4 separate regions of the Homo sapiens genome follow, and regions 1, 2 and 3 are each reported to be linked to region 4. The links are microRNA targets in miRTarBase. Many come from high-throughput screens and were not tested one by one. Region 4 holds a microRNA gene; each other region holds the end of a gene's coding sequence.
The links. Region 4 holds the annotated microRNA hsa-miR-6747-3p (UCCUGCCUUCCUCUGCACCAG, at 3,507-3,527, shown strand). A microRNA usually pairs through its seed, bases 2 to 8, with sites in the 3' UTR of a target mRNA and lowers its output. Matches are read on the target gene's strand: a 7mer-m8 pairs with bases 2 to 8, a 7mer-A1 pairs with bases 2 to 7 and ends in A, and an 8mer does both.

Region 1 (7,819 bases), not on the chromosome of region 4:
GATTTCTTGAAGTCAGGAGTTTGAGACCAGCCTGGCCAATATGGTGAAACCCCATCTCCACTAAAAATACAAAAAAAATTAGCTGGGCCTGGTGGCACGTGCCTGTAGTCCCAGCTACTCGGGAGGCTGGGGCAGAAGAATTGCTTGAACCCAGGAGGTGGAGATTGCAGTGTGCCCAGATCACACCACTGCACTCCAGCCTGGGCCTCACAGAGAGACTCCATCTCAAAAAAAAAAAAAGAAAGAAAGAAAGAAGAAAAGAAAAAAAAAAGTGAAGGAGTGGTAGGAGTGGTAAGAGCCCTGAATGTGAGACTAAGGGGTTGAGCCCCGATCCTATGGACAGTGGAAACCACTGTGAGTTTTGGTATAGGGTGTGAGGTAGGGGTCATGTAGAGGTTTGGCTCTCCCAGCACCAATTGTTGAAAAGACTGTTCCCCATTGAATGATGGTGGCCCCCTTGTTGGAATGAATTGACCATTACCATAAGGTATGGCAGGCTTTTGAGAGAGGAATCATGTGGTCAGATATGTATTATAGAAAGATCAGGTGAGACTTGTTTGGACTGGGAATGGCTGGGAGGAGGAGGGGTTGGAGGGAGGCTCTTATGGGTGGACTTGATGGCAGGGGGACAGAAGGGGCATCTGGGGAGAAGAGACATCCCTGGATCAGCCCATGGCGGGCAGCAAGGTACAGGGCTATGTCCTGAGCCAAGGCCAGGATCTGGCCCACTTGGGCCTGTGGAACTCACTGGGGGATGGGGATGGGGCAGTCAAGGGAGAGACAGAGAAAATGCCCCCACTCCTCGGCCCCTCAAGGTCCTCAAAGTGGTAAAATAAAACCCACTCCAGATATAGCCATTTGCAAAGTCAGTTTTCAGGTAATGAAAGGATTGTAATGGAAAAACAATGCCAATTACAGCAGCATTATCCGGGATTATAAAGCTTCTAAGAGGCGGCTCACACCTCCAGGCATGCTGTGCCTGGGAATTTCCAGGGTAGACTTGGGATCAGAGCATACAGGCTGCCAGGATCCAGGCCTCACAGTGGGCGTGGGCTGCTGGGGAGGCCCAACCCCTGGGGCTCTATGGATCTGCCTCCATTTCCCCAAAGAGATAGAATACCGGGAGGCAGGAGGACCCCCCCAACTTCACACACACACACACACACACACACACACACACACACTTCTGAGAAATTGGATAAGAGGAATGTGAGGCTGCCAGCCCATCTCTGAAGGAAACCTGTTCTTCTGTGGGCTTCCCTACTCCTGGGGACACCACATCCCTCCATGGCTCTTTCTGCCTCCCCCATCACCTCCCCTACCTGGCCTTGGGGACAGCAGGACTGCACACATGCCCTTGGGGACAGCAGGACTGCACACACGCCGAGGCAGCCCAGCGTTGCTCCTCCTGGGCTGTGTGACCTGGAGCCAGTCAGCTGTTCTGAGTGGTAGCTTCTGCTTCGATAAAATGGGGAGATCACCCCTGCCCACCATCACAGACCTATTTTCAGGATTAAATGAAATATTCTAGATAAAGAGTCCGAGGAATAGAAACCAGTCCAACCTCGGGGCCTGGCGATTTGGTGGTGACTGTTAGAACAGTGAACTTCTATGCACTGGGTCCCAGGAATCCCTCCTCATTTCCCATAGGGAAAGTTTTGCAGATGTGTGTGTGTACAAGGATGTTCCCTGCAGCCCCTTATGTGAGGTTGAAAAATCATAAACAACTGAAAAGGCCTTCGATAGGGGGCCTGATTAAATTAGGATCCATCTGTCCTGCAGGATCCTTTGCTGTAATTGGAGTCTGGCAGCTCCTGTGTGCTGTCTCCGGCAGATCCCACCACGTGGGGCTGCATCAACAAAGCAAGTGCAAACAACACCTACAAAATGAATGCATCGCGGCTGTTCGGAAGCCCGCACGGCGCTCCACATTTTACATGTTCACAGGTAGACACCTAGATGCCATAAAAGCAGCGACGAAGAAAACACTCCCAAATGACCCGATTGGTTACTACTGGGGAGGGGACGGGTATGGAGGCTGGGAGGTGGCAGGTGCATCAGAGGAGTTTCACTTTGCTGTAGTTTTAATGTTTCACTGTAACATATGCTTCTGTCACCCACATATGTCACCTCCAGACACACACAAAACACACGCCAACACCAAGTTCAGAGAGTCTGGCCTGACCCGCGCTCAGTCAAGGCTGAGGCCATCATTCTGACCACAGGTCAGGGAAGGGAGACTGGGGAAGCCCCCTCAGGTGGACAAATGACATCCCCTGGCATTGCAAGGAATGGAGTGACGCCACTCAGCCTGGCTGGACTGAGCCAACGGCCCACCTCTCCTGCATAAGCTGTCTGCCAAGAAAACTATTGAACTACATAAAAATCCATCCCTGAAATCCCAGAGGCATCTTTAGAATGGAGCATGGACTTTACATTAGAATGTGCTTTAACAAAAAAAAAAAGAGAGAGAGAGAGAAAGAAAAAGGAAAAGCAGGTTTTGCCTGTAACTTGAGTTCAGGTTTGTGACACTGGGTGGCCAAAGAGCACTGCCTACCCTGGCCGAGGCCACCAGGCTCAGTTCCTGCAATATTGGCTGTGAAGGGAACCCCAGCCACACCGGGTTCAGCGCAGAACCAGCACATGTTCCCATGGAAACTCTGCTGCCAGAATCCCCTGGAAATGTTTGCTGAGGAGGGGCCACCGTTTACCGCACCCACTGCAAGTTCTGGACTGGTGGTAGAGGCTGGGCACAGACTGACCTCCAGAAGAAGTCCATGGGCCCTCTGCTAGGGTGGCACCAGACTTCCCTGGTCCCACAGGACAGCCAGTGGCCTCCTAGCTTAGTTCTGGGCCCCCGCCTGCAAGCACACGTGGCAAGGAGGGCTTCAGCAGGCTCGCAGAACCGAGTGGCAAGGCCCCTGCTCCCAGAAGCTGGTTTCCCAGGATGATTTTCTCAAGCAAGTGCTGACAGAGCAGGAGTCAAGCGGGGGTGGGGTTGGAGGCTGAAACCCATTGAAGGGGTCAACTTCCTAGAGGCAGGCAGGGATGCCTGGGGGTGCCAGACGTGGCTGAGATGTTTCTGCAGAGGGGAGGTTGGGAAGACCTAGGAGGGCAGGGCAGGCTGGGCCGGGAGAGATGGTGGGAAATCCCACCAGGTCAGGGGCCAGTGGGCAGAGGGAAGCATCAGCTGAGACCCAGAGACAGGGCTGCCCTGCTGCGGTAGGGCCCAGGGGCAGGGGCCTGCAGGGGCTGCCTGGGGCTTCCCTTCCCCACCCTAACTCCAGTCCCCACTCAGGACTGCTCACATCCGTCCGTCCTGGAAGGTCCACAGCTCCCCTTCACCTAGGCCTCACCTACTCCACTCAAGCCACCCCATCCCCCTTAGCTTTTCCCCTCCAGGCCCATTCATTCAGCTCCTGCTAAGCCAGCACCCTCCTTCCCTCACCTCTCTGCTTACCTTGCTCCCACCCCCAGCTCTGGGCAGCCCTGGCCTGTCCATCTGATCGTGCTACCCCGTAGGCACTCCTTAAAGGCATGGCTGCAGAGAGCCTGGGCCCAGCTCCCAGGGAGGCCTGCCTCTCACTTAGACTCCTCTGTACTGCCCCAGAAGCCTATTCCTTCTGAAGGACGAGTCTTGAAGGAAATGCACACCCACTGAGCTTCTGCCTGAGCCAGGGAGTCCCCTTCTGTCCTTTCTGAGACACTGAGTAGTGTTTGTTTGTTTGTTTATTTGGACAGAGCGTGCTCTGTAGCCCAGGCTGGTGTGCAGTGGTGCCACTTCGGCTCACTGCAACCTCTGTCTCCCAGGTTCAAGAGATTCTCCTGCCTTAGCCTCTCGAGTAGCTGGGACTACAGGTGCGTGCCACCACACCAGGCTAATTTTTGTATTTTTAGTAGAGACGGGGTTTCACCACGTTGGCCAGGCTGGTCTCAAACTCCTGGCCTCAAGTGATCCACCCGCCTCGGCCTCCCAACATGCTGGGATTACAGGCATAAGCCACTACGCCTGGCCTGAGCTGTCTTGACTGTCACTGCAAACTGAGGCTCAGGTGGCCAGTGACTTGCCCAAGTCCACAAGGCTGTGGGAGGTGGAGCAGGGATTCAAGGGAGGCCCTGAGGCCACCCAGCCTGGGTGGGTCTCAAAAGCAATTTTCTTCTCTTCCCTCCTCCACCCATTCATAGTGGAAAGCAAGCCTGCACCCCAGGAGCTCCCATTCATACCCTCTCTGTCCCCTCTCTGTTCTTCCTCCTCCCGCCTGCCCCATGCACCTCCCACCCTGAAGTTCCCTGCCACCCCTCGCCCTGTGCCAGCTTGTCTCTGCAGGCTCTCAGTCCTGGGGGCTGGAGAACAGGTGCTCAGTCCTCTTTGCTGCCCACAGAAGTCTCAGAACATTCTTGCCCCACCCTCCCTTGGGCCAAAGCCCTTTAGGGTCCCGTCCTTTCATGCTGTGCTCTCCTCCTCCTCCTCCTCCTCCCTGCCTCTCTCCTTGCTCACTGAAGACCTCAGCACCCACTGCCTCCCAGCCTTGCCCTGAACCAAGCACAGACGACCACCACGCTGGCAATGTCTCTGTCCACCAGAGGGGTGATGGGTCAGCCCCCAAGAACCTCCTACGCCACAGGGAGGAGTTGGAATTTTATTCCAAGTGAGGCAAAAACCATGCAAGGTATAGAGCAGGGGAGGCCAAGGCCAGGTGTGGGTTTAATCGGGGTCTGTCGGTGGCAGGGCAGCTGCAGGGAGGCCGTGTTGGTGATGCCTGGGCCAGGGCACAGTGGTAAAGTTTAACCCAGGCTCCCCTGTCTACCCCTGAAAAAGACTGGAAAATGCTGAGTCCCAGCCAAGGGTCCAGGGTCTAGGAGCTGAGGTCAGAGAGGCCCAGGAGGTGGGGGAGGCAGGCCCAGTGAGGTGGCCCTCTCCTGGTCTTGCTGGCTTCGGTTTTCCCAGGGGAGCTCACTGCACCCTGAGCGGCATTGTCCCCCATTGCCCTGACCCTTGCCCCCACCTCCTTGGCTGGTGGAGCCAGGAGCCTGGGAGGCCCCTGTGCACACCTGGCAGCTTCACCTCCCCAAACAGGCCCGGAGTTCATTCAAATCCAGCCTCTGGGAGCAGGGGCCTTGCCACTCGGTTATGTGAGCCTGCTAAAGCCCTCCTTGCCATGTGTGCTTGCAGGCGGGGGCCCAGAACCAAGTTGGGAGGCCACTGGCTGTCCTGTGGGACCAGAGAAGTCTGGTGCCACCCTAGCAGGGCCAAGGGACTTCTTCTGGACGTCAGTCTGTGCCCAGCCTCTACCACCAGCTTTCCCTTCCCTGCAGGGAGGGGCATGACCTGCAGAACCAAAGGTGCTTCTGTGAGCCAGTAGCCCAGTGCTGCTTGGGGGCAGGGGCGGGGCCTGTGCCTTGGGTTCCCCCCCCTCCCTGGGCACATTTGGGGTTGGGGCAGCCCACACGGTGGGGTGGGAAGATTGACCTGCCCATTTTACAAATGAGCAAAGGTGGGAGAACTCAGGGAGACATGGGGGAGCAGAGGGAGGAAGCAGAGCCCAACAGCCCGGGGCACCCGGACCCCAGCCACTGCCTGCCTGTGGATGGGTTTCTGGCCACGGTGCAGGGCTACTGCGAGGAGGAAATGAGGGTGATGTGGGCACCTGAAACAGCAGAAATGGCTCAGGGCCAGGCACTGGGGAGCCACTGTCCCCATGGGGCTTGAGCTTCTGCCTCAGAGGGACCTTCCGGCTGCCATTGAGGGTCCCAGCACCAAACCCCACAGCTGGACCACTTGGGACCTCAATCCACAGGGGGCCAGGGCTGCGGCCTATGGCAGATAAAGATAGAGGAGGAGGGCTGGATGAAGCCACAGGTGGTGGGCACAGGATAGGCCAGACAGAAGGGACTTTGGGGGACTCCACCTTGGGTAGAAGGAGGGACAGCTGAGGTCCTGTGGTGGAGAAGGCCTGGAGCAGAGGGTGACCAAGGAGATGACAGAGTGCACGTACAGGGCCAGGCCAATGGGAGTGGGAACCCTTGGGAGAGGGAGCTTCAGGCCATTCATTCAGTTCCTGTTTAGCCAGCACCCTCCTCCCCTCATCTGTCCCTCTGCCCTCACCCCAACATGCCAGAATCTCCTTCCTCTCCAGCTTGTACCCAAGCCCTCTCTGCTCCATGCCCCCAGCCTGCTGACCACCTCTCAGCCATGTCCTGGGCCTCCAGATCTGTCCCTGATCCTAGTCTTGCCTCTGAGGGGTCCATCATCCTTGTCTGTCCCCCAGACCTCCCACGCCAGCCCCTGCTCCCACCCTGCCTGGCTGCCTCGTGCCTCTGGCCCAGCTGGGTAGGTAGGGATTTGCATAGCTGCTCCCCAGCTCCTCCATACCTCGGCTCCCCACACAGCACTGCTAGGCGCCCCTGCAGGGTCCTCCCTCAGCTCAGAGGCTGCCCTACTGGCTGAGGTGCAGGCTGGTGCCAAGAGAGCATGCTGCTCTGTCAGCATGAGGCAGTGAGCAGGGCTCTGGGCAAGGGTGGCATCCAGGAAAGCCCTTGAAGACTGAGGGGCGCTTTGCTGGTTGGGCCAAGGGAGGAAGGGCCTGCCTGGCAGAAGGAACAGCCTGGGCAAAGGCCCCAAGATGGGAAAGCCTTGGTGGTTGGGGCATAGAATGGGGGGGCAGTGGGGCCGGCCAAGACAGGAAGGGCCTTGAATGTGAGGGTGAAATGATGGGGTGTCCCTGGGGGCCTTACTCCCAACTCAGATCAAGTCCTTTGGTGGCAGGGGCTGCCCCGGTCCTCTGACCCAGGGCAAGCTCTATGAGCGGTGGAGCCCATCCTAGAGATTTTCATAGACCAGGTTAAGTTCGCCATCATCTTCGAATCTATGCGGTCTCTCCTGGATAGAAAAGAAGAAAGGGAGGGAAGGAGAGAAAGAGAGAGAATGACCATTAAGAATGAACTTGCACTAATTTAGTTTTAGCCAGAGGGCAACAGATCACTTCCTGTGTAGCTTTGATGGGGGGCCTGCCCTCTGTCTCCAAGCCCACCTCCCCAGCCTCTTCCCCCACCATGCTGCCCCCACCCCTGCCCATTGCCCTCCAGCCACATGGGCCTGCCCTTCCAGCCTCAGAGCTTCCCCCACAGCTCTGCCCTCTGCCTTCTGCCCTATGTGTGGGATGCGCCTCCTCCCACAGACACACCTGTTCCATGACTGCCCCCTACTCACTCTGCCTGCGGGCTCATCATAGGGTCCCAGGGACCCCCTCCCTCCCTCCCCACCCTGGCTGGTCCCTCCCAGAAGAACACCCCTCACAACAGGGCTACAAATGCCTCTGTGTGTCCATGGGGTCAGCGACCTATTCCTGCAGACTATGGCTCCCAGAGGGTAGGGACATGCCTAGTTCTCCTGTCCAGCACCCCAGGGCCTGGCACAGGGTGGGCACTGCCGGAGATGTCCCTGCTTTCACTCAGGGTCTAGTTGAGGGCTGAGTATAGAAAGGGCTTTGAGAACAGGCGATTTAACAAATAGTGCCAGCCCGAGCCAGAGAAGGCCAAGTGCCAGGCGCCCGCACTCCCTGACAGATGTTCCAAGAGGCCTGTGGGCTCCTGTTCTGGCTGAACAACGCCTCACGCTTGACGGTGCTGGAAGCTCTGGTGCAGATGTTATTCAGCTTGGAACACATTTGAATTCAGAGGCAGTTGGTATTGCAGGAAAACACTGCTCATCCACTTTACAGATGAGCAAACAGGTTTAAGAGAGAAAGTATGGGCCGGGCGCGGTGCCTCACACCTTTAATCCCAGCACTTTGGGAGGCTGAGGTGGGTGAATCATGAG
Region 2 (7,819 bases), not on the chromosome of region 4:
TGGCTAACGCCTGTAATCCCAGCACTTTGGGAGGCTGAGGCAGGTGGATCACCTGAGGTCAGGAGTTCGAGACCAGCCTGGCCAACATGGCAAAACCCCATCTCTACTAAAAATACAAAAATTTGCCAGGTGTGGTGATGCACACCTGTAATCCCAGCTACTCAGGAGGCTGAGACACGAGAATTGCTTGAACCTAGGAGGCAGAGGTTGCAGTGAGCTGAGATCATGCCACTGCCCTCCAGCCTGGGTGACAGAATGAGACTCTGTCTCAAATAAAACACACGCACAAAAAACCAAAAAACAATCCTCTAAGGTGGGTACTGTTGTTATCCCTATTTAACAGTTGAGGAAATGGAGCCACAAAGAGGTTAGGTGGCTTACCCATCACAACCTCAACTGGTAGTTGATGTAGCTATGATTCTTACCCACGTGGTCTGGCATCTGGTTCTTGCTTTTCAGCAGCATGCATTTCTGTCTCTCCCTGAAGGACAGTGCCACTTTATCTCACAAGTGCTGAGCTAAAACGTAACTGAGAGTTTATACTGTGTGGCACAGAGGAAAGGATGCCTGGAATGAATTAAAAAACTGGTTCCAGTCCTGGCTCAATCGCCATATTTTTACAGCTCTCTGAACAGGATTGGGTCAGATTCTTTCCAACTCTGCACCACTCCTTAGCAGAGTAGGGATTTTATGTGCTGCCTCCTCTGAAGTGGCATCTCCCCTACCCCCACCCTCCTTCTCTTTAAAGAGAACAGGAGACTCCCTTCTAGAGGGAAGCGCTTGGGACTAGGAAGCAGGAATCCTTCAATGCGTGCTCCCTTCAGTTCCATCATCTAGGAAGAGCAGTGCTTTCTGGGTACAGGGATTCAGATATTTGCTTGGGCCTGGCGTAGCTCAGCCCTGCCCTCTAGCCTTCTTCTGGCTGCCAAGGCCTGACAGAGCTGTGAGTGGGCAGAGTTAAGGCAGGAAGAACCAATCAGGGAGAGAAGCTACTTGGGCTTCGTGCCTCCCTTTTGAACTGTTAGCTCTGAACGGCAATCCATAGAAGACAGCCATGGATTTCATCTTTTAGGAAGCCATTTTCTGGATGAGGTAGCTCGCAACTTAGCCATGATTTGGTCCATCTGCTTTGGCTAGAAAACCAAGACTGAACTTATCTAGATTGGTCAGGGATCCCAGGGATCCTTAGAATATTTTGTGAAAGACCTTACCTTCACCGTCATGCACTCCAGCTAAAGACCAGCACTGTGCCCCTCCCACTTGATATGGATGATTCAGAATGAAGCAGGCTGACTTTAGTTCAAGGCAGTGATTTTTTTTTTTGAGGGGGGCGGGGACTTCAAATTTTGTTAGCAATTGGGAACTGGAAACTGAGCTCTCCCTAGATGGTAGTCCTGCCTTGTATGTGATGAATGGCACCACTAAATATCTCATGATGTTCATGTCCCATTTCTAGACATTTTTCAGTGGGCTGAGGTGTTTCATTTATTTCTGGGGACTCAGCTCTCTCTTCAGGGTGACATGACTGGGATCAATCATTGAAAACTACTGGTGTTCACTGTGTTTCCTCTTCTGACTCTCCCACCTTCTCCAGCACCTCCCTCCTTTGTTGCATCTGATGAAGTACACGTTTCATCTTCAAAATAAAAATTTATTCAATCTGTAACAAGAACATTGAATCTGCACATTTGCGCACAAGTTCACATTTAAAAACAGTGGAGCATATCTGTAATAAAAAAATCTATGATACAAGTGGAACATCCCAACCACCAGGAAGATTAAGGAAGGAGATGAGACCACTCTATATTCTGCTTCAAATGCCTCAAAAATGTCCCAGAGATTCCAGGGAGCACCTGCTTTAATAAAACATGAGCATAAAAGTTTGGGGTGGCTTGGGGCAAAGGTAACAGTCAGAGGAGAGTCTTCTGGACTTGTTTTCCATGTTAGAACAAGTCCTACAAAACAAAGCAGAAAGAAAAAAAAAAAAAAAGAAAAGTAAAGGCACCTTTAGATATGCCAAGCAAACCAAAATCCAACAGAACATAAAAATCAAACATTTCCCTGTGGGCTTACTGATTGGGAAGCACTTCAGGGCCAGTTACCCAGTTTTTAGTTTGGGTATTAGCTCTGCATGTGTACACAGGACGCTGCCACCAGCATTGCTTTGAGGACACAGACGGCAGCACCAGTCAAATGCCTCTTAAGGGATCTTCAAGGTGATTAAGGATGATTCCAGTTTAGAAATCCTATCCTAGACCTCTGGGGCACTGAGAAAATGAGGCTGGTTATCTTCTCATAGCAGGAGCCAGGGCCAGTCACCCTCCATTTCCAGGCTGGAAAAGTACAGAAGCACCTTGCAATAGCTCTTCATGACGTCAAGGGACCCCACACCCTGGGAGAAGGGTTAGGAGTGTGCAGCTTCCTGCTTTGGTGGCAGGCCTTTTCCTAATATGGGTGTCAGAGGAGTTGAGGCAGCAAATATGCTTGTGTCTAATACATGCCTTGATCTTTTAGTTTGGAAGGGAAAACAAAGTCCAAGATGCTTTTAAGTTGGATTGATGCTGAAACAGCTAAAATTTCATCTTATCCACCATCAAAAAGCAAAACAAAATTAAACAAAATGACACTAGCCATTCACCATTACAACCATCACTATAAGACACACCATCACTGAGGAAATGACAACTATTTCCATAGAGAGTGCTGGATGGGAGGGCAGGACACAGACGGAAGTCAGCTTCAGCGTATACCCACTTACTCACAAGGGCTGACCATGATGGCCCTGCTCTGCATGAGGACTCACAGGACAGCCAGGGCACTGATGCCTGCAGGACTGCATGGCCGACAAGATGATGCACATTTTAATATTCAAAATGTAAACAAAGTATCCACAAATAGTCCAAAAAAGCCAAAGAATGGCTTTACTTAAAAATTTTTAAATGCCCTTAAAAGTGACTTTTTGCATAATGCTTTCTTAAAAAAAGAACTCTCACAAAAACATTTTTACCAAACATGCCTAGATCACTTCAGAACTGAAATCCTCAGATGAAACAGGTGAACACTTCTGTGACCTGCTACATCTCAGAAGCTTCTCATAGGAAGCTTTGAGTTTACCCAACAGCATCTGTCTGGGGCCTGTGAGCAGAGTACCTCAGAGCCTGAGGCACTGAGATCTTCAGGCTGTCCTTGGAGCTCTGGGTAGTTTGCAAAATGAGAAAGAGGAACTATCAGTAGGGATAAAGACACAGAACAAGGAAATCCATAACCCTGTCTCAAGCCTCCTCAGAACCAGGAAAATACTAAAGATCCTGAAGAGACTAAGATGATAGGAATGATCCCAAACATTTAGAATCTGAAAGGCAACTAAAATGAGGAGAGATGAATATTACGGTACTATAGTACTACATGTCTACTACAGTATCCATTAGTCCTGGGTGTCTCCAAAAATCAAGAAAGGGTTGGGGTTTCCCTTTCTACTGACCAGGTTCAGCTCAAGTTCTGTATGCTCCTGGGGCTTTTACCCCATACACCAAAACATCAACTGTTTTTATATATGTACATATGTGTACACATGCACATACACTCCTCCAAAATAAGTGAGAGTCTATGGTGGTTTAAAAAGAGAGAGAGAGAGAGGAGAGAGAGAGAGGCAGGCAGGCACTGGGCAAGAGTCAAAGTTTTTCCTATTCATCTTTGCCAGTCTATCAAATCTGCTGCTTCAGGTCAGGTCATGAACAAAAGAAAAGGGAAAGATGCCACTGGAGATTATAAAAGTCTGAAGAGAAGACAGTCTGGAAAGTCCTTGACAGTTCACTGCGCACCTCCCCTGGACACTGCTCAGCTATGTAAATAACCCAGGAACACCCAATTCTGGGAGTCTGAAAAGGCTGGCACAAACTCCTTGGCATGGTTGAATGACAGATATTCTGTAGAAGATGTTTATTTAGGCAGGTAAATTAAATGATAAAAAAAGTAATTATAAAAAGGCAGAAAGACTTTCCTCTGCTCTTGAAAATTTTTTTTCCCCACAGTATTAGTGGGTTTTGTCCCATCTTTGTTGTTATTTAATGCAGTGAGTGAACATTAAACACAGTGGAGGGGAGAAGAGGGAACAGTCCAAAACTTTGGTCCTGCTTGTACCTCTTAGTGTGTGGGATGTCATCATCGTAAGGGGTTACCACAAGTGGATGCCACTCTCTTAACTTCCAGGCAAACCCTCTCCCCACCCTGCCATAAGTTCCTGCCCTTCCCCATCATATTGGTGGTGGAACTGCTTCAAGAAGGCAGGGTATTCTACATGGAAGAGCTCTGGAAATCCATAACCCTGTCTCAAGCCTCCTCACATTGGTTCATACCACCTAACAAAACACTTTACAACACACAAATATCCAGGAATCACAAAACTGAGTGGATGAGATACTTGAACATTCAAGGAGACTACTGAGCAACAGCACAGGGTACACATAATCACTGCACCATAGAGACGCTTTTAGCAAGTGGTTTCTGTCCAACCTGCTTCCTGGCAGGGATGTCAGACCCAGCCTTGGCTTCCACACAACTTCACAGCTCCTCTTAAGACCCAGTGGCCCCAGTCTACCTTTTCTGCATCTTTTGGGTCGCCCTGCCATCTGCCCCCACCAAACTCTGGCCTCTGACATCATGCTGACAGTCTGTGCATTTGTATTTTCCTCAGTGCTGTGATAAGCCAAAAACCTGTCTCCAGTCTATACTCAGTCAATCCTCAGTAACGTGGACATCAACGAAAGCAAATCTGCAAGCCTCTTCAGTTTCAATGAGATGCAGAGGTGTTTCATGCTAGACTAAATCTGTTTTCTGTAAGAAGCTACAAGAGGCTTGTTTATGACAGGCGCTGCTGCGTTAAGGATCTCCACAACAGTAGCAAAACGACAGCATCCTAAATGGAGTCACTGTGGGCACTTGCCCCTGGCTGAGGCCTCCCCTGTGGCCTTCAGCCTCTACTAGGAGCTTCCACTCTGGGCAACTCACATATACTTCCTGGCTGTGGTTGAGATACTGGCAAACAATGTTCTGGGATTTCAGTCTCACAGAGAAATCAGCTTTCAGTCACGCTGTGACCTAATGGGAGCCTTTAGGGGTGTCTCTGAGGAAAAAGTTACTAATGCATAATTTGGCAGGAGCTGGTGATTGGAAGTCTCCATTTAAACAACTACAGCCACCATCAACATATTGTACAGATTCCTATCAACACCCAACACTTTCATTTCTGGTGTCTGTGTTTTCCAGTTGCAACTCTACTCCTTCTTAAAAAGAATAAATCAAAATTACCCTACAACATGAACAAGACACTAAGACAGTGACAATATTATGTACATAAATACTGTGTACAAACTTTAGAGAAATGACAAACCTTCCAGGAAAAGGAAAAAAAAGTGTTAACAGTGATAATACCAAAAATAAAACGTTGCATTCAATGGATGTTAAACATATGTAACAATTCAAATATAATCTATGAAATTTAAAAAAATAGGCAGCATGGGGACAACAGCATGGGGAAGGAAAATAAACTGGAAGAAAATATGGCCATTAAACTCAGAAGGCCCAAAGAATTATTCAAGTAATGGAAGGGTTAAAACCCTACATACATATTCATTTTACAAGAACACACTGACTTTCGATTGCTGCTTTTCAAACATGTCACTGTTGTTTTCAGTTGGGAGGACACTGCAGAGCACATTTTTCTGGCAGGGAGAGCCAAGATGCCCATCTGTGTGGATCCCACCAACCCAGCAGTTTCTGGGCAGCAGCCTCTCCACCCCCAACTTTATGTCTTCCTCCTCTTATCATGCTTTCCTCTACAGAAGACCACTTGGATTTCATTTGGGGTCCTGTTTTAATTTCAAAAATAATTTTCTTGGGAAAAAAACTATATGATAAATTTGCAGAGCCGGCCATTATCATGTCTTACTGTAACGATACACTCTGGAACACCGGAAGACCCTCTTTTAAAGCAAAGCGGAACCTGCCTCCTTCAGGAACTCTAAAGGGCTGCGGCTGGATGAAGGCTGAGAGCCCTCTGACTTCTGGCTGACCTTTAGCCCATTCGATGCCTCAGGTCTGGAAACCAAACCATCATCACAAAGGCAGGGGAACATCTCCAATCCCCAGCTTTATCTCCACCCCTCCGAATCTGCTTCCTTCCCTCAATTAAGAAACCATGCCTTTTCTCAGAGGGCAAAATGAGAAGCAGGTGGCAGCTGACTGAAAAACAGCAATTTGCCTTTGATAAAGGTGTTCTCTGAAAATGACTTTTTTGAGGTTTGATTTTTTTAAATAAAAAATGATAAACGGTCTTGCCATCCAGATCAATCTCTCTTTCCCCTTACATATACACACACATACACACTGAAAAACACCCAAACCCTGCATGCACCAGAAACAGTAAAATGACCAAAATATTATAAAATTAACCAATAAAGTGCATGTTCCTTACATATTACACCTGCCCCTTTTACAAACATTTCTTCTAGAAAGTCACATGTGTAGGCTCAGAATCACATGGTATTATAGAAGGGGTTGGTTGTCCGTTTTTTGTCATTTGCCTTTTTCAGTCTCCTAAGGGGGTGAGTTCTGCCGTGTTGCTGACGGGGTGCCACGGCCAGCCCTGGAGCTGGGCATGCACACTGCAGTCCCTGGGTCTGTAGCACGGGAAGGCCTCCTTCAGAACTAGTCAATTCAAGTCCTGCCCTGGGGAGCAAATACTGCTGACTAGAACCAAATTCTTTGGCATACTGCACAAGGGGCCTCTCCACTGGCTTGCTCTGCACAATACACTCTGTTGTTGTGAGTTGTTCTACAAAAGACTTGGTGGGCTCTGGGTTGTGGGGGGCACCTGGGTTTTCTAGGGACTCTTGGTCCTCCATCGCGTGCATGCCTGAGTCTGTTCTGAGGAAAGGCTGAAGCAGTTTGAGATGAGGGGATTCACAGGAGGCAGGCTCCCTCTCTGGTAAGCAGTCTTTACAGAGGTCCAAGTAACCTAATTTGGCGAGAGAAGCTGAGCGCCTCATTTGGGATGGTTTGGTGAGCCCTGCCTGGAAAACCACTCGAGACTCGATTTCTTTAGCACGCTCCTTCACCACACCGGGGCTGTGGCTGAGACTCTTTATGTTTTCACTACTAGAGCTATGTGGGAGTCGACAGGCTACAGGCAATGGGTCCATTTTCTCCTGTAACTCCCCAGTGTTGTCACCAAGTTTGCTAATTAAACTTAGGTCTGCGCTACTTAGCTGGGAGTCCTTATATGGCACCTCACTGCCACTGGAGAGAGGGCTCTCCTGACTTTCTTCCCAGCTAACCTGTTCTGCAGAGGGCTCATCTGTAGTGCTGCTCTGCTCTGTGAAGCCCTCCAGGTGAACCATAGTCTGGGGATGCAGGTAATCCAAACTGGCAGACAGTAAATGGGTTGTATGACTGACAAAAGGTGCTGCTGTCTCCAGGGCTGTGGACAGGCTGCTGCCTCTGTCTTCAGGGCTACTCAGGATGGAGGTTGGATGGTCAGTGGGTCTGTTGTGCTCAGGGGAGGAAGAATGAGGCAGAGGTAGCACTTGGGGGTGCAGAGAAACCTGGTTGGGGTCCAGAGTCCTGTTTAGATTTTCATCCAGTGTGCAGAGCACAGTGACAGATTTTTCCATGTTCACTTTCCTCAGCCCTTGCTCTCCGCTCTTCTCACTGGTGGCTATTTCACTCCCTGGCCCAGTGTGATTGGGTGATGTAACTATGTGGGTATATTCAATGATTTCTACCCTCTTGGGAAGGGGAAGAGGGACTGCTTGTGTTTCAG
Region 3 (7,819 bases), not on the chromosome of region 4:
GGGAGGAGTGGAAACCACATGCCCCTCCCCACCGTGCTCTGACCCCTTCCTCTTCTCTTAGGGTTGGATGGGCTGTCTGAGCGCTGTGCCCAGTACAAGAAGGACGGAGCTGACTTCGCCAAGTGGCGTTGTGTGCTGAAGATTGGGGAACACACCCCCTCAGCCCTCGCCATCATGGAAAATGCCAATGTTCTGGCCCGTTATGCCAGTATCTGCCAGCAGGTGGGCCTGCAGGTCCTCAATAGGCAACCTCCTACCTCATTTGGTTCCAGTGTTGTTAATTTGCCTATTACCTGCCATGATGCCTACCTCCCCAAAAGCAAGCATTAGCTTTGGCCCGTGGAGGACACTCAAGGGCTGTTGAAGGCAGAGGGGCCAAGGAGGGATGGTGGGTGGATCTGAGGCGGCTCTTGTCTCCTGTAATCTGAGGGCTTTGAAGCCTGAGTCCCTGGCATCATCAAGATACGGTCTTGACCAGTGGCTGTGGAGAGATGTAGGTGGGACTCTGGGTTAGGAGGCCTCACAGTGACCCTGTCCCTCGCCCTGCAGAATGGCATTGTGCCCATCGTGGAGCCTGAGATCCTCCCTGATGGGGACCATGACTTGAAGCGCTGCCAGTATGTGACCGAGAAGGTAAATGGCTACCTGCCTGACCAGTGCAAGGTGGCTGGCCGGGGACCCTGGGGCTAACCCCTATCCTCTCCTCCACCCCACTACCCACCGTGCGCCTGCTCTGCTCCAGGTGCTGGCTGCTGTCTACAAGGCTCTGAGTGACCACCACATCTACCTGGAAGGCACCTTGCTGAAGCCCAACATGGTCACCCCAGGCCATGCTTGCACTCAGAAGTTTTCTCATGAGGAGATTGCCATGGCGACCGTCACAGCGCTGCGCCGCACAGTGCCCCCCGCTGTCACTGGTGAGGCCCACACTCATCTTGATCTCTATGCAGTAGATAAGCTCCACCCACAACCCTATGCCCATTTGGACGGATTTCCATGGCAACTTCCACCAGCTCCTGCCAGCTTCCTGGGTCTCTGACCACAGCCCCTCTCGCCTCACCCCTGCTCTACAGGGATCACCTTCCTGTCTGGAGGCCAGAGTGAGGAGGAGGCGTCCATCAACCTCAATGCCATTAACAAGTGCCCCCTGCTGAAGCCCTGGGCCCTGACCTTCTCCTACGGCCGAGCCCTGCAGGCCTCTGCCCTGAAGGCCTGGGGCGGGAAGAAGGAGAACCTGAAGGCTGCGCAGGAGGAGTATGTCAAGCGAGCCCTGGTAAGGATAGGCAGGAGGTGGGCAGGGTGCCTGGGTGGATGGGACTCGGAGAAGAGCCCTTCTCACTCCACCCCTCTCCCTGCTTAGGCCAACAGCCTTGCCTGTCAAGGAAAGTACACTCCGAGCGGTCAGGCTGGGGCTGCTGCCAGCGAGTCCCTCTTCGTCTCTAACCACGCCTATTAAGCGGAGGTGTTCCCAGGCTGCCCCCAACACTCCAGGCCCTGCCCCCTCCCACTCTTGAAGAGGAGGCCGCCTCCTCGGGGCTCCAGGCTGGCTTGCCCGCGCTCTTTCTTCCCTCGTGACAGTGGTGTGTGGTGTCGTCTGTGAATGCTAAGTCCATCACCCTTTCCGGCACACTGCCAAATAAACAGCTATTTAAGGGGGAGTCGGCCGTCCGTGTCTTGTGGTGTCTAATGCAGGGGAGGGCCTGGGGAGGTAGCAGAGCCCAGAAGAAGAAAGAGCCCCTGTTCTCTGTTTTTTCTGGGCAGAAAAGGAGTGAAAGGTGGAAGGACCTTCCTGCTCTGTTTTATACTTGGCCAGGGCTTCAAGAAAGGCTGAGAGCTTGTGACATTTTCTTCCAGCCACTGCAGGCTCTGCCCCTTCACCTAACAGCATAAGATAGGGCTAACAGTTGGGGAGTATGGTTGTAACTGCTCATGTCTTAGGAGGCTTCAGCCTCAGCACTTTTAGGTCCAGAACTCAAGGGGGGCAGAAGACCCCTGTGACAAAAACCCACTAACTAGCTCATGAGTGACATGAGCCAGGCAACATAATGGGTGTTTTATATGAGTAGATGCTGTTATTTTTAATTTATACCTAAGGCTCTTTTGCCCAAGATTGAACTGTTTCTTGGTGGAAAGGATTATCAATGCATATCTCTTTTTTTTTTTTTTTTGAGACAATCTCACTCTGTCACCCAGACTGGAGTACAGTGGCACGATCTTGGCTCACTGCAACCTCTGCCTCCTGGGCTCAAGCGATTGTCCTGCCTCAGCCTCCCAAGTAGCTGGGATTACAGGCTCACGCCACTATCGCCTGGCTAATCTTTGTGTTTTTTAGTAGAGGTGGAGTTTCATCACATTGGCCAGGCTAGTCTCCAACTCCTGACCTCACATGGTTCCTCCACCTCAGCCTCCCATAGTGCTGAGATGATAGGCGTGAGCCACTGCGCCCAGCCAATGCTTATCTCCTTAATCTACACTATTGAGTTTTCTGTTTTCCCATCTTTTTTTTTTTTTCTTTTTGAGACAGTTTCGCTCTTGTTGCCCAGGATGGAGTGCAATGGCACGGTCTCTGCTCACTGCAACCTCCCCCTCCCGGGTTCAAGTGATTCTCCTGCCTCAGCCTCCACAGTAGCTGGGATTACAGGCGCAAGCCACCACACCCGGCTAATTTTTTATTTTTAGTAGAGACGAGGTTTCGCCATGTTGGCCAGGCTGGTCTCGAACTCCTGACCTCAGGTAATCCGCCTGCCTCAGCCTCCCAAAGTGCTGGGATGATAGGCGTGACTGCGCCTGGCCTGTTTTCCCATTTTAACAGGAGATGGAATTAGAGAGGGCTTCTTAGTCTCCTTTGGGCTGTGGAATCCCATAAAAACCTTGAATTGTTTCCAATACCCCCTTGGTAATGCAGATACAGAAGTTAAGCTGTAGAGCTCAGGCTCCAGGTGAAGAACTGTGTCTCTGTAGCTGCTGCTTTCCATGAAGCTAGAATGAGCGTGCCATGCCATTACTTTGAGCCTTTCCCCAATGACCCAGGCTGGGGTGTACAGTAACTACATCAGCTCTCTGGACCTAGAGAATCTCTGCAGTGATTCAGGTAGAACGGAGTTACCTAGAACCTTCTAGGAGTATAAAAACTTGGTCCTAGGCCGGGTGCGGTGGCTGACGCCTATAATCCCATCATTTTGGGAGACCAAGGTGGGCGGATCATGAGGTCAGGAGTTTGAGACCAGCCTGGACAACATAGTGAAACCTTGTGTCTACTAAAAATACAAAAATTAGCCGGGCATAGTGGCGCACACCTGTAGTTTCAACTACTTGGGAGGCGGAGGCAGGAGAATTGCTTGAACCCAGGAGGCAGAGGTAATGGTGAGCCGAGATTGTGCCACTGCACTCCAGCCTAGGCAACAGAGCCAGACTCCGTCCCAAAAAATAAAAATAAAACTTGGTCCTTCCCTTTTCTGCTTATTTTGCTTTTATTGCTTACATCTAAAACAAAACCAATCACTATTATCCCTCTAAACTTTGGATTAATTTGTCTGCCTAGCTCATTCAACTCTGGGAAACAAACACTGAAGTAAAGCAAATAAAAATTGAAGGTCGGTAGAAGATGGCAAAGGGGGCATTCCAAAAGGGAACATGTGCAGAGTCTCAGAGACTGGAGAGATTGTTTAAAGATCAATAGTTTCAGCCGGGCACGGTGGCTCACAACTGTAATCCTAGCACTTTGGGAGGCTAAGTCCGGCGGATCACGAGGTCAGGAGTTCAAGACCAGCCTAGCCAATGTGGTGAAACCCCCGTCTCCACTAATAATACAAAAATTAGCTGGGCATGGTGGCGCGCGCCTGTAGTCCCAGCTACTCGGGAGACTGAGGCAAGAAGAGTCGCTTGAATCTAGGAGGTGGAGGTTGCGCTGAGCCAAGATTGTGCCACCACACTCCATCCTGGGCAACAGAGCGAGACTCCGTCTCAAAAAAAAAAAAATAAAAAAGACTAGAGAAGCAGAGAACGTCATATACCAGTTTGGGGGATTTGGACTTTTATTTATTTATTTATTTTGAGACGAAGTCTCGCTCTGTAGCCCAGGCCGGAGGGCAGTGGCACGATCTGGGCTCACTGCAACCTCTGCCTCCCGGGTTCAAACCGATTATCCTGCCTCAGCCTCTCCAGAGTAGCTGGGATTACAGGTGCACGCTACTGCACCCGGCTAATTTTTTGTATTTTTAGTAGAGACGGGGTTTCACCATGTTGGCCAGGCTGGTCTTGAACCCCCAATCTCAGGTAATCCGCCTGCCTTGGCCTCCCAAAGTGCTAAGATTACAGGCGTGAGCCACCATGCCTGGCCTGGACCTCTTAATTTTATGATAATCTGAGTTCCCGAAAGAGTAATTGATAGAAAAAAAAACTACACCTGAGGACACAACTTTCTGAGTTCAAATTTCTTTTTTTTTGAGACAGCATTTCACTCTGTTGTCCAAGCTGGAGTGCGGTGTCACAATTTCGGCTCACTGCAACCCCCGCCTCCTGGGTTCAAGCGATTCTCCTGCCTCAGCCTCCCAGGTAGCTGGGACTACAAGCGCATCACCAAACCTAATTATTATTATTTTTTATTTTTTAGGATAGACAGGGTTTCACCATGTTGGTCAGGCTGATCTTGAATTCCTGACCTCAGGTGATCCACCTGCCTCGGCTGCCCAAAGTGCTGGGATTACAGGTGTGAGCCACCACACACAGCCAGGTTCAAATTTCTTTCTTTTTTTTTTTTGAGACAGAGTCTCGCTCTGTTGCCCAGGCTGGAGTCCAGTGACGCAATCTTGGCTCGCTGCACGCTCTGCCTCCTGGGTTCACGCCATTCTCCTGCCTCAGCCTCCCAAGTAGCTGGGACTACAGGCGCCCGCCACCACGCCCAGCTATTTTTTTGTATTTTTAGTAGAGACGGGGTTTCACTATGTTAGCCAGGATGGTCTCGATCTCCTGATCTCGTGATCCGCCCGCCTCAGCCTCCCAAAGTGCTGGGATTACAGGCGTCAGCCACCGCGCCCAGCCCAAGTTTCTTATTCTTTTTGTTTATAGACTGGGTCTCACTCTGTTGCCCAGCCTGGTCTTGAACTCCTGGGCTTAAGTGATTCGCCTCGGCCTCCCAAAGTGCTGGGATTACATGCTTGAGCCACCACACCTAGCCCCGGATTCAAATTTCAGTGTAACATCCCCAATCCACTGTTATACAAGCAATGAACAAGTTATTTAACCCCTCTGAGCCAGTTTCCTCCTCTTAAAAAAGGCACAAAACTTAATAGAAAGCAACTAAGAAGCCAGGCACGGTGGCTCAAGCTGGTAATCCCAGCACTTTCCGAGGCCGAGGAGAGTGGATCACCTGAGGTCAGGAGTTCGAGACCAGCCTGACCAAAATGGTGAAACCCCGTCTCTATTAAAAATGCAAAAATTAGCTGGGCGTGGTGACGGGTGCTTGTAATCCCAGCTACTCAGGTGGCTGAGGCAGGAGAATTGCTTGAACCCAGGAGGCGGAGGTTGCGGTTTGCCAAAATCGCTCCACTGCACTCCCGCCTGGGCGACAAGAGCAAGGAAGGCTCTGTCTTAAAAAAATAAATAAATGAAAATACAAAAATTAGCCAGGCGTCGTGGCACATGCCTGTAATCCCAGCTACTTGGGAGGCTGAGGCAGGAGAATCGCTTGAACCTGGGAGGCGGAGGTTGCAGTGAGCCGAGATTGTGCCACTGCACTCCAGTCGGGGTGAAAAAGCAAGACTCCGTCTCAAAAAAAAAAAAAAAAAAAAAAAAAGAGGCCGGGCACGGTGGTACACGCCTGTGGTACAGCACTTTGGGAGGCTGAGGCAGGTGGATCATGAGGTCAGGAGATCGAGACCATCCTGGCTAACACGGTGAAACCCCGTCTCCACTAAAAAATACAAAAAAATTAGCCGGGCCTGGTGGCGGGCGCCTGTAGTCCCAGCTATTCAGGAGGCAGAGGCAAGAGAATGGCGTGAACCCGGGAGGCGGAGCTTGCAGTGAGCCGAGATGGCGCCACTGGACTGCAGCCTGGGCGACAGAGCGAGAGAGTGAGACTCTGTCTCAAAAAGAAAAACGGAAGCAACTAAGAAATGTCAAGAGTGCCATTTTGGAATCAGAGAAGTCATGCTGACTGAGGCACAGGCTTGGCGTGGGAAAAGTGGACTCCAATCTGTTAACTTCTGAAGTTGTCCACGGCAAATATTTCTCTGACGGCACAGGAAGAGATCTGAACTTGGCTTCCCTCATCCATTGAACAAGTATTAACAAGTATCTATATATGCCTACCGTGCCAGGCCTTATTCTAACCACTGGGGCTGCAATATTTAAAAAGACAAAGTTGGATCCTCCAAGGACTGTGGTGGGGAAGGCTGACAAAACAAGTAACAAAAATGTGTAACATTAAAAAAAAAGTGTAATGTTAAAAAAAAAAAGTGTAATAAAGTTACAAAGCCTAGCCCCAGCTCGGCTTGTTTCCCTAGCTGAAATGGGGGATGGCCGGGCGCGGTGGCTCACGCCTGTAATCCCAGCACTTTGGGAGGCCCGAGGCGGGAAGATAGCTTGTGCCCAGGAGTTCGAGGTCACAGTGACCTATGATAGCCCCACCGACTCCAGCCTGAGCGATAGAGCGAGACCCTGTCTCTAATTTAGAAAAAAGAAAGTTGTGGCCGGGCGCGGTGGCTCACGCCTGTAATCCCAGCACTTTGGGAGGCCGAAGGGTGGTGGTGGGTGGGGGCGCGGATCACCTGAGGTAGGGAGTTAGAGACCAGCCTGACCAACATGGAGAAACCCCGTCTCTATTAAAAATACAAAATTAGCCCAGCGTGGTAGCGCATGCCTGTAATCCCAGCTACTCAGGAGGCTGAGGCAGGAGAATTGCTGGAACCCGGGAGGCGGAAGTTGCGGTGAGCCGAGTTCGTGCCATTGCACCCCGGCCTGGGCAACAGCAAAACTCCGTCTCAAAAAAAGAAAAGACAGTTGTTTAAACATTTTTATGAAATGATATGGGAGGGGACTGGTCTAGGGTTTCTAATAGCCTCCACATCGCCCAGCGGCAGAGCCCACAAAACTGCCACTGGCCGCCACCGGGTTCCTCCACCTCCTTCCCGATCTCAGGCTGGAGAAGTGGTGCAGGGGTCGCTGCGAAAGGAGAGGAGCGTGTATGACGCCACATCCGGCGCGCGGCGGAACTGGCCTCCTTTGCTTCCGCGGCGGGGCCGGAAGTAGGAGCGGCGGCGGCGGCGGCGGCGGCGGTCGAAAGCGGAGTGAAAGAGGGAGGCAGGGAGCCGGAGAGCCGGAACCGGAGTCGCAGCGGCGGTAATAGTGCGAGACTCCTCTAAGTCACCGTCCTTAGCGCGGGACCGCGGGGTTCGACGGGAGTTAGCGGGGGTGCGGCCAGGCCGTTGGACGCCGGGGGGTCCTGGGGCCGATGTGAGGGGAGGCGGGGGTGGGGGAGCCGGGCCGGCTCTAGAATCGAGTTGTCCGCTCCGAGCCCCGGACGGACACTGATCCGCGGGCTCGTCTTGGCCTTTCCCAGGAGACCCCTGTGCGGTGCGGAGGGGGCGGCGGCCCCGACTCTGACCCGCGCCGGGGGTGGGCCATGGCGGAGATCAGCGACCTGGACCGGCAGATCGAGCAGCTGCGTCGCTGCGAGCTCATCAAGGAGAGCGAAGTCAAGGCCCTGTGCGCTAAGGCCAGGTGAGCTCGTTGGCCCTGGGGAAGGGAGGCCAAGCCGCCGCCCACGGGTTCTGGCCTGGGGCAAACCCAACTGAGAACTTTGGGCTTGCCTCGTTCTGGA
Region 4 (7,819 bases):
GTACCATCACTTGCTTTCCATTCTCTTAAGAAGCTGGGTAATGTCTTGCCTTTAGTTTCTGTTTGGCAGCTAAGATGTTTAGTTTGTTGCCATATTTCCTGGGAAGATTGGTTATTCTTAGTTGTGAAGACAGAGGTGATGATGGTAGCTTCAGCATTAAGATCTTTTTGGAGGCAGGCCAGGCACTGTGTCTAACACCTATAATCCCAGCACTTTGGGAGGCCTAGGCGGGTGGATCACTTGAGGTCAGGAGTTCGAGACCATCCTGGCCAGCATGGCGAAACCCTGTCTCTATTAAAAATACGAAAATTAGCCGGGCGTGGTGGTAGGAGCCTGTAATCCCAGCTACTTGGGAGGCTGAGGCAGGAGAATGGCTTGAACCCAGGAGGTGGAGGTAGCAGTGAGCCAAGATCCAGCTACTGTGCTCCAGCCTGGGGGACAAGAGCGAGACTCCATCTCAAAAAAAAAAAAAAAGCTCTTTAAGCTCTTTTGGAGACAGATACAGGTTCAAGCCTTGGCTTCATTGTTTACCAATGTAGGTAAGGGGTTATATGCGGGTGAATTCCTTTAGTCCTGTTTTTTACTCTTTGCAATCTATAAAATCAGGGTAGTAATAATCACTGTCAAGGTTATTGGGTCAAAAAAGAATGACAAGTCACTGGTTTCCAAATAAAAGCTCTTGGACTGATGCTGGTCCAGAATAGTAATGTGATCATAGCAAAAGAAAAAACACTTACTGCATGCCAGACCCTGTGCCAGGGGCCTCATGGGGATCATCTTAGTGAGTGAATCTACTAAGTGGTAGAGTAGAATTTGAACCCAAGTACTGTGGAACCAGCACTCTGACTGCTGTGTTCTGTTTCCATGACAAGATTTTTTTTCCTCTTCTGGTCTTTGCAAACTAAAAAATGACAACAGTTCTACCTGAAGCTTTGCAAACTGAAAACTGACAACAGTTCTACCTGAAGCTGTTTATTCTTATTTTTCTTTGACCATGCTTAATACACCAGACACTAAGTTTAATTTGAAGGACTGTCCATTATTTATTTATTTATGTATTTATTTTGACAGAGTCTTGCTCTGTCACCCAGGCTGGAGTGCAGTGGCACGATCTTGGCTCATTGCAACCTCCACCTCCCAGGTTCAAGCGATTCTCCTGCCTCAGCCTCCCAAGTAGCTGGGATTACAGGCATGCGCCACCAAACCCGTCTAATTTTGTATTTTTAGCAGAGATGGGGTTTTGCCATGTTGGTCAGACTGGTCTTGATCTCCTGAGGACCTCAGGTGATCCACCCGCCTCGGCCTCCCAAGTGCTGGGATTGCGGGGGTGAGCCACCACACCCAGCCAGGACTGTCCATTATTCTAAATGCGTTTGAATATTTTCTTTGAATGTTCTTTACTTTCTGAAGTTTGATGGATGGGTGGGTGTGGGGGGTGTGTGTGTGTGTGTGCGTGTGTGTATAGTATGGCCAATATAGATAGTAAATACCTATAGTGTTTAGATTTTATTTGGCAAAAAAGTCCTCGATAGCCCTCTGTGGGTCTCAATCTTTTTTTTTTTTTGAGACGAAGTCTCGCTCTTGTCCCCCAGGCTGGAGTGCGATGGCGCGATCTCGGCTCACTGCAACTTCTGCCTCCCGGGTTCAAGTGATTCTCTTGCCTCAGCCTCCTGAGTAGCTGGGATTACGGGCATGTGCAACCATGCCTGGCTGATTTTTGTATTTTTAGGAGAGGCGGGGTTTCACCATGTTTGCCAGGCTGGTCTCGAACTCCTGACCTCAGGTTATCTGCCCGCCTCGGCCTCCCAAAGTGCTGGGATTATAGGCGTGAGCCACCGCTCCTGGCCGACGTTTGAAATTTAAAAGATTGGAAACAGTAGATCTGAAATAGTTTTGTAAAGGAGCAAGACAATTATTACTCCTACTCCTAAATGGAGGATGGACCCAAGCATCCATCCATTAAACTGGACTACACTGAAAAAAAAGATTAGAAAAAGAAATGGAGGCCAGGTGTGGTGGCTCACGGGTAATCCCAGCACTTTAGGAGGCCAGGGCAGGAGGATTGCTTGAGCATGCGAGTTCAAGATAAGCCTGGGCAACATAGTGAGACCCCATCTCTATTAAAATTTTTTTTTTTTTTTTTTTTTTTTGAGACAGAGTCTCACTCTGTCACCCAAGCTGGAGTGCAGTGGCGTGATCTCGGTTCACTGCAACCTCCACCTCCTGGGTTTAAGTGAGTCTCCTGCCTCAGCCTCTGGAGTAGCTGGGACTACAGGCACGTGCCACCACGCCCAGCTAATTTTTTTTTTTTTGAGACAGAGTCACTCTGTCACCCAGGCTGGAATGCAGTGCCGCGATCTCCGCTCACTGCAAGCTCCGCCTCCCGGGTTCACGCCATTCTCCTGCCTTAGCGTCCCGAGTAGCTGGGACTACAGCTGCCCGCCATCACGCCCAGCTAATTTTTTTATTTTTAGGAGAGATGGGGGTTCACCGTGTTAGCCAGGATGGTCTCGATCTCCTGACCTCGTGATCCGCCCGCCTCGGAGATCCCAGCAGTTTGGGAGGCCGAGGTGGGCGGATCACTTGAGGTCAGAGTTCGAGAACAGCCTGGCCAACAGGGCGAAACCCCATCTCTACTAAAAGTACAAAAATTAGCTGGGTGTGGTGGCAGGCACCTGTAGTCCCAGCTACTCAGAAGGCTAAGGCATGGGAGGCTGAGGCACGAGAATCACTTGAACCCAGGAGATGGAGGCTGCAGTGAGCTGAGATCACGCCATTGCACCCCAGCCTGAGCGATAGAGTGAGACTCTGTCTCAAAAAAAAAAAAAATTGAAAAAAATGAAGAAATGGGAAGTAATCCAGGGAAGGATGATGTTGTATGAAGCTATTGTCTATAGGGTTTGAAAAGAAGGTGAGCACTGGGACTTAGGTAGAGCAAGGACTCTTGCTGTGAACAGAACTCTTCAGGGCCTTTCCACTGACTTTGTTTACACCCTTATGTCCTGGCAGGTTCTAGAGCCTTCTTTCCGCCAGGCCTTTCCCAATACCAACCGCTGGTTCCTCACCTGCATTAACCAGCCCCAGTTCCGGGCTGTCTTGGGCGAAGTGAAACTGTGTGAGAAGATGGCCCAGTTTGATGGTGAGTCTGAGGAGACTGGGAGGCATATGGCCAGGATCAGGGTCTGGTTTGCTCTGCATCAACCCCTTGATTTCCTGTCTTGCTTTTGGGTTATGGGGACCTGCAGAATGTAGGGTGTCAATGTGGTAGCTAATATTATGTGCAGTTTCGTGTACACTCATACCCTGACTAATTTGTATTACTATATAGATTTGCGATATAAAGTATTTGTTGCTGAGTGTGTTGTTGCTGGAGGACACACAGTGAACTGATGAGCAGTCTGGGGCCTAAGTTCCTTACTTGTCCCATTCGTCAGTTTCCTCTGTTACCTTGCTTGCTCTGTGTGGTTTTGGAGGGGTGTGGAAAGAGGCAGAACATTCGTTCACTTTCCTGCCTTCCTCTGCACCAGCTAAAAAGTTTGCAGAGACCCAACCTAAAAAGGACACACCACGGAAAGAGAAGGGTTCACGGGAAGAGAAGCAGAAGCCCCAGGCTGAGCGGAAGGAGGAGAAAAAGGCGGCTGCCCCTGCTCCTGAGGAGGAGATGGATGAATGTGAGCAGGCGCTGGCTGCTGAGCCCAAGGCCAAGGACCCCTTCGCTCACCTGCCCAAGAGGTAAGGATATTGGAGGGTGGAGGGTGTGGGACCAAAGAAGGCCTGTTCTCACCTCTGTATGTCCCCCCTCACACACAGCTAGAGCCAGAATTTTAGGTTGTCCATATAAAGTTAAAGGTATATTTTAGTTGCAAATAAAGCAGCTTTCTGGCTGATAATCAGGAATTGGGCAAATTTTGATTGTGGAGAGCAAGTTTCAAGTACAGCCAGTACTGGGGAAGATTGAACTCCTATTCCAACAAAGACAGGAACAGATTTTGATATAGTGGTAAGTTGGTTTTGAGCAAGCTCATTTGACCATTTGAGAGCTCTGAGAACAAATACAGGGAGAGGCGTGGGGAGGAAGAAAGTGCAGAGAGCCTTGCGGTGCGCCACGCGCCCGGCTGTGCGGAGATAGTGGATGCCAGAGCAGGGTCCTTTGAATTGTTTTGTTTTCTGTTTTGCTGAATCAGACTGTACAAAAATTGCTCACTAAGAAAAAGGATGAAGATCATAGCTAAGTAGTGTCTGTCTAGTTCATTGTTCCACAACCGAGTAAAGTCCCCAAGTAGAAGAAAGTAGGTGTCCTCTGTATCCCTTTTTCAGTTAAAGGTAGGGCTTCTTGGAAGAAATAATATAGTAAAAACGAGATTTTTGGCATGAAAAATGTAGGACGCTGAGTGCTTGCCCAGTTCTCTGGGATGGAGTCTTTCTTCCATCACTGCTCCAAGTCATTTTATTGGGAGTTCAAGCAGTTTGAGAAATATATATTCTGTGGTCACTTTGCTTTGGAACTCCTCTTTCTCTGTACTTTTTCCTCCCACTCACCCTGTCATTTCCAAAGCCGTTCATCTTTTTACTGCTTGGTCTGCTAGGGTTTACATTTCACCCTCTCCCATCTTGTAATGGCTTGGATACCGGGTGAACCAGCCTAAAGGAGCACCCACTGGTAGGGACACAGTAGCTGTGCATAGAATTGTGAATTACAAGCATTGCACTAATAGATGGGAGCAACTTGGGGTATAGCTGAAAGTTCTTACTCCCGGGTATTTTGTACAAGACCAGGAAGGCTCCATCCAGACACAGGCACTCTTTAAAGATGTATTTTTTGAACTAGTGATTTGCCTTGAATTTAGCACAGGTGCAGGTCAAGAGTGAGCAGGATTTTTGGTGTGTGTAAATAGGTCATGATAATTAACCCAAATTACATATTGTGTTGTAACTCAGACGTTGTTAATTATTAGCTAGAGATTTTCACATATAGTAGGTCAGTACTCTGGGCAGGAAATAAATGAGGCAGTAGTAAACTTAAAATCTTTATTTAATAAACTTTACATTTTCTTAACATGGTTTTGGGAATGTTTATTAATGTCTATTTATTGGGTTACCATGATGCCCTACAGGGCTGCCAGAAATGCTTTCCCCAAGGTTTTTTTTTTTGGAAACAGGGTTTTACTTTGTTGTCCAATCTGGAGTGCAGTAGCGTGATCACGGCTCACTGCAGTCTTGACCTCCTGTACTCAAGCGATCCTCCCACCTCAGCCTCTGGAGTAGCTGGGACAAAGGCACACACCACCACACCCAGCTAATTTTTTATTATTTGTAGAGACTAGGTCTCACTATGTTGCCCAGGCTGGTCACAAACTCCTGGGCTCAAGTGATCCTTGGCCTCTCAAAGTGCTGGAATTACAGGTGTGAGCCACTGTACCTGGCTCCTTTTTGTGTTTTTTGTTTTTTTTTGGTTTGTTTGTTTGGAGACAGAGTCTCACTCTGTCACCCAGGCTGGAGTGCAGTGGTGTGATCTCAGCTCACTGCAACCTCCGCCTCCCCAGTTCAAGCGATTCTCCTGCCTCAGCCTCCCGAGTAGCTGGGACTACAATGACAGGCGCGTGACACCACGGCTGGCAAATTTTTTGTATTTTTAGTAGAGACGGAGTTTCACCGTGTTAGCTAGGATGGTCTCAATCTCTTGACCTCGTGATCCGCCCACCTTGGCCTCTCAAAGTGGTGGGATTACAGGTGTGAGCTACCGTGCCTGGCCCCCTTTTTTTTTTTTTTTTTTTTTTTTGAGATGGAGTCTGGCTCTGTCGCCCAGGCTGGGATGTAGTGGTGCAATCTTGGCTCACTGCAACCTCCACCTGCCGGGTTCAAGCAGTTCTGCTTCAGCCTCTTGAGTAGCTGGGACTACAGGCACGCACCACCATGCCCAGCTAATTTTTTGTATTTTTAGCAGAGACAGGGTTTCACCATGCTGGGCAGGCTGGTCTCGAACTCCTGACCTCGTGATCCGCCCGTCTCCGCCTCCCAAAGTGCTGGGATTACAGATATGAGCCACTGCTCCCGGCCTTTTTTTTTTTTTTTGTGAGACAGAGTCTCACTCTGTTGCCCAGGTTGAAGTGCAGTGGTGTGATCTCGGCTTACTGCAGTCTCCGCCTCCTGGGTTGAAGCAATTCTCCTGCCTCAGCCTCCCGAGTAGCTGGGGATTGCAGGTGCGTGCCACCATGCCTGGCTAATTTTTGTATTTTTAGTAGAGATGGGGTTTCACCATGTTGGTCAGGCTGGTCTCAAACTCCTGACCTCAGGCAATCCGCCTGCCTTGGCCTCCCAAAATGCTGGGATTACAGGCGTGAGCCACCGCCCCTGGCTCCCCCAACATTTTTAATGTCATAAAAGTGATATCCTAAAAGACCAAGACTATTAATGTCCAGATTTTAATTCTAGTTCTTTTAAGACCCAGCTAGGTCAACTGCAGTGGCTCATACTACTTGGCAGGCTGAGGTGAGAGGGTCACTTGAGTCCAGCAGGTTGAGGCTGCAGTGAGCCATGATCGTGCCCCTGCACTTGGGTGACTGAGCAAGACCCTGTCTCAAAACAAATAGCTTGAACAGTTCAGGAGGGTGTGAAAAAATTCCCAGCCCCAGTTTTGGTGTGGTTGAGGTTTTAAGGCTCCTCAGATGAGGTCTCTTATGCATTTGGAAAGGAACCTGGGACCTAGGGTTAAAGGACAGATCCTCTGCTTTGCTACAGTGTAATCTTGGACAGGTCATTCTACTTGGTCTCATCTGTAAAGAGAGGGGAGGGTCAGGGTAACAGTTGATAACTCATGGGTTATAAGGATTGAGTGAAATTGGAATACTCATGGCAATATTTATGCTATGAACAATAGAACCAACTAAACATTCAGTTTAATATTCAATGTTTAGTAGATTTATGGCACAATCCTGCATTAGAAGATTGTTTGGCCATTAAAATGTTTGCAAAGAATTCTGTTTTTGAGGTAGGGTCTTGCTATGTTGCTTAGTCCGGTGTCCAACTCCTGATCTCAGGTGGTCCTTCTACCTCAGCCTCTTGAGTAGCTGGGACTGCTAGTGCAAAAAATTGTTTTGTTTTAGGCTGGGCGCGGTGGCTCACGCCTGTGATCCCAGCACTTTGGGAGGCTGAGGCGGGTGGATCACGAGGTCAGGAGATTGAAACCATCCTGGCTAACACGGTAAAAATACCGTCTCTACTAAAAATACAAAAAGTACAAAAAATTAGCCGGGGGCGGTAGCAGGCGCCTGTAGTCCCAGCTACTCAGGAGGCTGAGGCAGGAGAATGGCGTGAACCCAGGAGGCGGAGCTTGCAGTGAGCCGAGATTGCACCACTGCACTGCAGCCTGGGCAACAGAGCTAGACTCCGTCTCAAGGAAAAATAAAAAAAAAAGGATTGTTTTGTTTTTTTGACAGGGTCTTGCTCTTCTCCCAGGCTGGAGTGCAGTGGTGTGATCTCGGCTCACTGCAACCTCTGCCTCCCGGACTCAAGCAATTCTCTTGCCTCAGCCTTCTGAGTAGCTGGGATTACAGGCGTGAGCCATGGTGCCCAGCTCCCAGCTAATTTTTAAATTTTTTTGTAGAGACAGTGTCTCGCTATATTTCCCAGGCTGAAAGAATTCTTAACAGCATGGATAGGATGTCCAGTAACAACAAAGTATAAGCACAAAACTGCATATGTCATGGCTACATCTTTGAAAAATCAAAGGCTGTAGGAAAATACATAAAAGATTATCCTGGGCTGGGCACGGTGGCTCATGCCTGTAATCCCAGCACTTTGGGAGGCCGAGGCGGGCGGA

Region 1: miRTarBase lists NFAM1 as a target of hsa-miR-6747-3p. Seed matches in the 3' UTR shown: 7mer-m8 at 6,584-6,590, 7mer-m8 at 6,297-6,303, 7mer-m8 at 5,578-5,584, 7mer-m8 at 4,478-4,484, 8mer at 3,824-3,831 and 7mer-m8 at 3,575-3,581.
Region 2: the mRNA of SSH2 is a reported target of hsa-miR-6747-3p. Seed matches in the 3' UTR shown: 7mer-m8 at 6,001-6,007 and 7mer-A1 at 4,239-4,245.
Region 3: the mRNA of ALDOA is a reported target of hsa-miR-6747-3p. The part of its 3' UTR that is shown has no 7-base or 8-base seed match.

What each region holds. Positions count from the first base shown.
Region 1 is chr22:42,378,341-42,386,159 of GRCh38, forward strand. It overlaps NFAM1 (NFAT activating protein with ITAM motif 1), which reads right to left. Exons shown (of 6, transcript NM_145912.8): 6 at 2,067-6,880. The coding sequence ends at 6,821. Among named protein-coding and RNA genes, the nearest start is that of LINC01315, 13 kb to the left of the region's middle.
Region 2 is chr17:29,624,308-29,632,126 of GRCh38, forward strand. SSH2 (slingshot protein phosphatase 2) reads right to left here. Exons shown (of 16, transcript NM_001282129.2): 16 at 1,631-7,819. The coding sequence ends at 6,534. Among named protein-coding and RNA genes, the nearest start is that of CORO6, 5.3 kb to the left of the region's middle. RefSeq lists an enhancer at 1-405.
Region 3 is chr16:30,068,757-30,076,575 of GRCh38, forward strand. It overlaps ALDOA (aldolase, fructose-bisphosphate A), which reads left to right. Exons shown (of 10, transcript NM_001243177.4): 6 at 62-222; 7 at 550-633; 8 at 743-917; 9 at 1,074-1,273; 10 at 1,361-1,658. The coding sequence ends at 1,456. PPP4C (protein phosphatase 4 catalytic subunit) reads left to right here and starts at 7,238. Exons shown (of 9, transcript NM_002720.3): 1 at 7,238-7,338; 2 at 7,559-7,719. The coding sequence starts at 7,622. LOC112694756 (uncharaterized LOC112694756) reads left to right here. Exons shown (of 14, transcript NM_001365304.2): 10 at 62-222; 11 at 550-633; 12 at 743-917; 13 at 1,074-1,273; 14 at 1,361-1,658. RefSeq lists enhancers at 5,960-6,139, 7,762-7,819 and a silencer at 7,512-7,651.
Region 4 is chr11:62,562,719-62,570,537 of GRCh38, reverse strand. It overlaps MIR6747 (microRNA 6747), which reads left to right and starts at 3,467; the gene lies at 3,467-3,527. EEF1G (eukaryotic translation elongation factor 1 gamma) reads left to right here. Exons shown (of 10, transcript NM_001404.5): 6 at 3,010-3,139; 7 at 3,528-3,732.